Homo sapiens: one gene and its partner. The protein of the gene in region 1 purifies or fractionates together with the protein of each later gene. This does not show direct contact. Each region holds a gene or a part of one and is shown in the gene's direction. Other genes may lie near its edges.

The links.
Region 2: the proteins of SPTY2D1 (region 1) and MLYCD purify together in Homo sapiens (affinity purification with mass spectrometry; one large-scale study listed by BioGRID and IntAct). This does not show direct contact.

What each region holds. Positions count from the first base shown.
Region 1 is NC_000011.10:18,631,276-18,635,697, reverse strand, and holds the start of SPTY2D1 (protein SPT2 homolog), read left to right. Parts: upstream 1-1,355; 5' UTR 1,356-1,440; coding exon 1,441-1,500; intron 1,501-4,422. UniProt on the Homo sapiens protein: Histone chaperone that stabilizes pre-existing histone tetramers and regulates replication-independent histone exchange on chromatin.
Region 2 is NC_000016.10:83,925,069-83,927,594, forward strand, and holds the end of MLYCD (malonyl-CoA decarboxylase, mitochondrial), read left to right. Parts: 3' UTR 1-1,963; downstream 1,964-2,526. UniProt on the Homo sapiens protein: Catalyzes the conversion of malonyl-CoA to acetyl-CoA.

The sequences.
Region 1 (4,422 bases):
GCCAGCAGCTTTGTCTAGCATGTTTTTTGTTTTTTTTTTTTGAGACGGAGTCTCGCTCTGTCGCCCAGGCTGGAGTGCAGTGGCGGGATCTCGGCTCACTGCAAGCTCCGCCTCCCGGGTTCACGCCATTCTCCTGCCTCAGCCTCCCAAGTAGCTGGGACTACAGGCGCCCGCCACTACGCCCGGCTAATTTTTTGTATTTTTAGTAGAGACGGGGTTTCACCGTTTTAGCCGGGATGGTCTCGATCTCCTGACCTCGTGATCCGCCCGCCTCGGCCTCCCAAAGTGCTGGGATTACAGGCGTGAGCCACCGCGCTCGGCCTGTCTAGCATGTTTTAACAGCTTGACATATTTACATACTGTATCATTCTCACCCGTCTTAAGTGTACGATTTTTAGTACATGTATAGTGCAACCATCCCCACAATCCAGTTTGGAGGCATTTCCATCCCACCGAAAAGATCCCGAGTACCTGTTTGCTATCAATCCCCTGGCGGGTTCCCACTTGCAGACCCAGGTTTGCCTAATTATTTTCAGTGTTTTTGCTAAGTCGAAATGACCTTACAGATCCAAGATAACTCTCCAAAAGAAGTCAGGACTAGGATCCCAATGAATATGAATATGAAGCATATGTTCATCAGTACACCAAAGTTATGTCAAGGCTGGGTCTGTATGTGAAATTCCTTAATCCATTGCCTGAGCAAAAACACAGGTTGGCTGCTCCACATAAAACTTACTTTCTAAACGGGGCAAAAGAAGTAAGCGCGTGCCCCCATCCCCGGCACGCGTGCATCTGAGTAGGAGGTAAGCGCACGGCATGTGGCCGAATTTGATGAGTAATGGGCATCCAAGACAGGACCACGGCGCTGCTGTGTGCGCCTGCGCAGCTTCGCGAGCGCCTAGACACAAGTAGCCCAAACCCCGGCTCGAGATCCGTCTGTTCAGCTGTTGTGGCGCCGCCGTTTTGGATCTAAGCGCCTACCCGTGACACCCAGAGAACCCAGGCCTGGCAAGTAAACCCTCTACCCCCTCACTTTCTCTACCCAGCGCTCACAAGGAGCAACAAGATGACAAGACCGCGCGCCCGGGCCACCAGGGAAGCCGCTCTCTCGCTTAGCCACACCCCCTTGGTTGCTAAAATGCCTAGTCCCTGCCCCTCGGGTCGACGCCAGCAGCCACGTATCACGTTTGTACGTGTCTCGGCCTAAAAGCGGAAGTTACGCAGGGACTCGCGAGCGCTGTGGCGGCCCTGAAAGGATATAGGCCGTGGAGGGAAGGGGGCGGGCAGACGGCATAGGAAGGCGCCGGAAGTGGTCCCGCAGAGGCGGGGTGGGAGTGGGGCTCCCGAGGCAGTGCAGTTGGCTGTAGCTGGGCGCCTCGGTTAGGTGCGCTGTCAGTCCTTTCCGAGTGCCTGGCCCAGTCTCTCCCGCCTCGGCCCAACATGGACTTCAGAGAAATTCTCATGATAGCTTCCAAGGGACAAGGTGTCAACAATGTGCCGGTAAGTAGCAGCTGGGGCATCAATGTAGGGGACCCTAGTCTTCCAAGTTCGGAATGTGTGTGGCCCATGGAACTTCTGGGCAGCCGCCTATCGGCTCCGGGAGAGGAAAGACCCGGACGCCTTATTTCCTTTTCTTGGGTTTATACTCTTGGGAACTCGGGAGAAAAGAGCTTGGGACGAGACGCGGGAGCCTTCCTGTGAATGGGTTTCGCCGGCTTATTTACCCCTGCAACAGGGACTTTGCGGTTTGGGTGTTGTAGCTAGAATTGCGTGAAAGCCGTGAGTGAGCTGTGCCTGGCACGCTGTGGATTCTAGCGCTGGTAGTTTTTGGCTTCCACATAAACTTCAGCCTAGAGATTGGGAAGGAAATATGTATGTAAGGGAGTTAGGGGGTTTGGGGTCCTTGGCTTGATAGCTTTTTGGCTGGCTTCTCATCGATCTTCAAGTCAAACGTTTAGCGATTTCTTGAAAGAATTCTCTGACTCGGCCCCACCCACTCAGCCACCGAGGTGATTAAATTATCACCTCCCAGGGGATAGGTATCATCTTTTGGGAAGAGAAGTTTAGCAGATTCCACGAAATCCTTGGCCAACAGAATAGGTGAGCTAGTTTCAGCTTCTGTTTACTTGTAGCCTTCCAGATTTCAGTCTTTGTTTAAAATCTAGGTCCCATTTGGTCAGTAGATGTTTGTCAGTTCGCTTACAGTCGCAAGAGCGGTGTAAGACTTAAATGGTAAAGTGGTGGAGAGCGCCTGGTTTCTGGGGGTTATGGCTGTTTTGCATAAGCTAATCATTTCCAGATTTTCAGATGGTACCCACAGCACAGCTGTAAACCGATAAGTTGCATGGTGATGCCTGCGGTTTGAGCAGTGAGGTATAGAACTAAAACGGCTCTCAAAGTCAATTCAGCTAGAATTTATTGAGCTCCGACGAAGTGCTCTGCATTTCCTAGATATTCGTATATTGCAATATTCGTTTTTTTCTCTTCTGCAGCTTTTTTTTGTCTTCTGAGGCTAGTTCATTCTTTTATCCCTTTGAAAATATTGATCTGAAAAAGGTCTATATTTATGTTTATAAATATATGTATATATACACACACACAGCCATCCCTTATCCCAAGAACTCTGAATAACCATTCCTCTAAGCCGTGAGTCATAAGCTTTGCATGTTGAAGGTATAGACTCAAACCTTTGAAACCCAGATCAACAGATTTACTTTCTAGAAGCATCTGTAAATTTTCCAGATGAATCAATATTGGGTCTAGTAACCATTCATCTTTGCATAATTTGGTCTGTATTTCATTCTAGATCTTATTGAATTTCAGTAAAGGTCAAAGATAGTACTAGCTTTGATGCCCAGTACTGTTCTGTGGAAGAATCAGAACTAAGTCATTTCTTATTCTGAAAGCCAGTAGCTGCTGGGAGAAAAGCAGACAGATAATCCTAAAGCAGAAAATTTCAAAATATGTGTATATGTCATAATATATGCATTATCTATGATTGGAATAACAGAAGAATCAAAAAGGGGAAAAAAGTAATTTAAAATTTAATAGATGGGCGCAATGGCTCAGGCCTGTAATCCCAGCACTTTGGGAGGCCTAGGCGGGAGAATCACCTGAAGTCAGGAGTTTGAGACCAGCCTGACAAATATGATGAAACCCCATCTCTACTAAAAATACAAAAATTAGCCGGGCATGGTGGTGTGCGCCTGTAATCCCAGCTACTTGGGAGGCTGAGACAGAATTGCTTGAACCCAGGAGGCGGAGATTGCAGTGAGCTGAGATCGTGCGATTGCACTCCAGCCTGGGCAACAAGAGAAAAACTTCATTTCAAAAAAAAAAAAATCAATAGATAATATAGCCATATATTTTATGAATCATGCATTCTCTGACCTCTCCCCGCCAAAGCTAGTAAGCCTAGAAGTTTGATTTAGTTACCAGCATTATAATTCTTATCTTTTTATGTGGAATTAAAGTCACAAAAGAAACTATTGAGGAATAGGATAAGACTGTAGTTAAATTTCTTCTTCTTCTTTTTTTTTTTTTTTAAGATAGAGTCTCACTCTGTCGTCCGGGCTGGAGGCTGGAGTGCAGTGGCATGGTCTCGGCTCACTGCAGCCTCCACCTGCTGAGTTCAAGCAATTCTCCTGTCTCAGCCTCTTGAGTAACTGGGACTACAGGCACCTGTCACCACATCAAGCTAACTTTTGTATTTTTGGTAGAGACAGGGTTTCACCATGTTGGCCAGGCTGGTCTTGAACTCCTTCCTCAAGTCATTCGCCCACCTCGGCTTCCCAAAGTGCTGAAATTACAGGTGTGAGCCACCACACCCGGCCAAATTTCATGCTTTACTTGATTTGCTTTAACTTGATTCATCTAACTGTTCTATTTACTTTTTCCTTATCAGCTTAAAGTAATTTGGACACTTTCAAACATAAGGAATGTTAACACATTTCTAATATACCCAAACCCCGTATTTAGCATATTAACATTTCCCCATATTTATTCCATCTATTTTAAAAGAAATAAAGCTTTTTTTCTTTTTTTGCCATCTATTTTAAAAGAAATAAAGTGTTTGGTGGTTTTTTTTTTTTTTTTGTTATCTATTTTAAAAGAAATAAAGCTTTTTCTTTTCTTTTCTTTTTTTTGAGATGGAGTCTCTGTTGCCCAGGCTGGAGTGCAGTGGCGAAATCTTGGCTCACTGCAAGCTCCGCCTCGCAGGTTCAAGCCATTCTCCTGCCTCAGCCTCCTGAGTAGCTGGGAATACAGGGGTGCACCACCACGCCCAGTTAATTTTTTTGTATTTTTAGTAGAGATAGGGCTGGTATCAAACTCCTGGCCTCAAGTGATCAGCCCACCTCAGCCTCCCAGACTGCTGTGAGTACAGGTGTGAACCACTGAGCCAGGCCTGTCTTGAAATGTTTC
Region 2 (2,526 bases), on another chromosome or scaffold:
GGGGCCCTGGTGTGGCATCATTGTTAACAGAGCTTCTTTTCACTCTGAAGTGTTCAGTTAGGACAGTCACTTGCACAGTCCCCTCACTGGTGACACAGACACCCCATACCTGTGTGTTTCCCCTGCATAGCTCAGCAGCAGCTCAGGCTCAGCACGGCCAAGGCTGAATGCAGATGCCCTCCCTCCAAAACCTGGCCTCCTCCAGCTGTTCCTTCCTGGCGAGGCCACCTCCAACTGTGTAACACAGAAGCCTGGGTGCCATCCCTGGGGCTCCCCTCACCCCCACCTCCCACCCGTCCCCGGGCCCCTGGACAGACCACTGGCCTTGTTCTCTTCATTTCCCTGGCCCAGGTTACAAAGTCTCCTTCCTGATTATGTGCATTAACTAACCTCGCAGGTGCTCTGCCCACCTGCCTACGCCAGACTCTTCCAGATCCTTCTCCACCCCAGCAGGCAGAGTTGTCATTGTGAAATGCAAATCAGGTTCCATCTCTCCTCTCCTTTCCTACCTCCCACCATCCCCGTCACCCTCCCTGTCACACACAGCCCCCTCCGTGGCCTCTCAAGCCTGCTGTGGCCTGACCCTCCCCTCTGCTTTTCCAGGCCCTCCTGGCACTGTCCTCCCTCAGTCTGGGACTCCCTGTCCTCCCTCCTTCCTGCGTGGCACATGCTCCTCCCTCTTCTTGAAACGCTCTCCCCTCCCTGCCTCCCAGGCAATGCCCACTCTGCCTCCAAAGTTCATCCATCGTCCTCTCCTCAGGAAGATTTCCCTGGTGGCTTGACTAGGTCACAGTCCCCCTTTATTTGCCGTCTTCTCACTGGGGCCTCTCCTTCCTGGTAGCTTCTAAACAAGGCAGTTTCATGTGTGTATCTCCACTAGACTAGACGCTCTCTGAGGGCAGGGACCCTGCTTCGCTTCTGGCCCGAGGTGGCTGCAGGGTCTGCAAGATCATCAGGGCCCCCTCCAATGTGACACTTGCAGAGGGGACCCCTGGCCTGGGGCCACGCTGGTTACTTGGGTACACTCCTTGCCCAGGGTTCCACAGCCCCTTAAAGGCAGGGTCTTTCTGGCCACGCCTGGCCCTGGTCTGGCCTCCCCAAGGAGCCCTGCCGCTGGGGGTGCTGTGTGGGAACAGAGCACAGGCCCTCCCTCCCAGAGCCCACGAGATCTCACTTTCTCCAAGCCCAGCTCCCCAAGGACTCAGACCCCAGTTGCCCTGCACTGAACGCTGGCTTGCCCTAGCTCACTCGGACCCCACCCTGCACTGGGAAGGAGGGTCCCTGTCCCCGTTTGACGGGTGACGACACTGAGGCCCAGAGAGCTGAAGGGGCTGGCCGAGGGGACGGGCTTGGGCGCTTCCATTCTCACACTGCTGCCGTGACACCTAATCCATCCGGGGAAGTTCCCTTTAAACCCAAAAGGGGACGGTGAAGCCACACGCGGCCGCCCTTCTCAGGAGCCCACTTCCACCTCTCGCAGGCTAGACAGCGTTCCCCAAGTCCCCCCTTGAGCTGGGTGGGCTGCCCAGCTGTGAACACAAGGACACCTCCGATTTCGTCCTGTGAATGTTGATATTAGTGGTCCCTTCCTTCAGGGGCTGTGGGGATCTCAAAAGATAAGGCAGGTCTGGAGTCCTGCGCGGTACCTGCCGCATGGCAGGCTCTTTACGGACAGCGCAGGGACGCACTTTGATGCTGAAAATGAGTCTCTGGGACAGATGGATCCCAGTCTGGGTCCTCGCAAGCGCTGTGCACCCCGTCGCCGCGAGATGGCGGTGTTGCGCCCCTCCAGCCTCCTCTGCTCTGCGCTTGGGCGCTGAATGTTAAAATTCCTAACAGGTGAATCGCTTGAATCCGGGAGGCGGAGGTTGCAGTTGGCCGAGATGGCGCCACTCACTCCAGCCTGGCGACAGAGCGAGACTACGTCTCAAAAAAAAATAAAAATAAAAAAATAAAATCCTAACAGGTAGCATACCTGCACTCGGAACTTGCACAGCCGCTCCCCACTCTCTCACAGGGATTAGGTAACGATACTCAGAGCTAGAGCAGGCATTTGGGACTGCCCAAACCAGCTGCTCTTCCTGCTTTCTGAAGCTTCCCCGGGGGAATCTTCTGGCTCCCAGTCCGAGCCTCCTGTGGTCAGCTCCTCCTTGCCCAGTCGTCGTTTGCAGTACAGCAGGGGCGTGGTCATTTGCAAATGTCCCAGAGGGCCCCCTCCAGTCGCTTCACATCGGTCTCAAGTCGGGCTGACTGAGGGCATGACTTTCTGTCTCAGGCATGGAGCCCAGATCACAGATCGAAACTCCGCTAAATCTAGAGGCCACGGGTCCCAAACACCAGTCATTTGCTGAGCACTGTCGCAATTTTTTTATATCCCTCCCATCAATACAAGCTGGATTTTTTTATTAAGTAGAAGCTAAAAGTAAAAAGTAATATAAAAACAAAACAGCATTAAACTTCAGTTAGATACATTTGCTTTCTCTCTTCAAAAAAATCGGGGTTGGCGGGGGAGGATTAATAAATGTT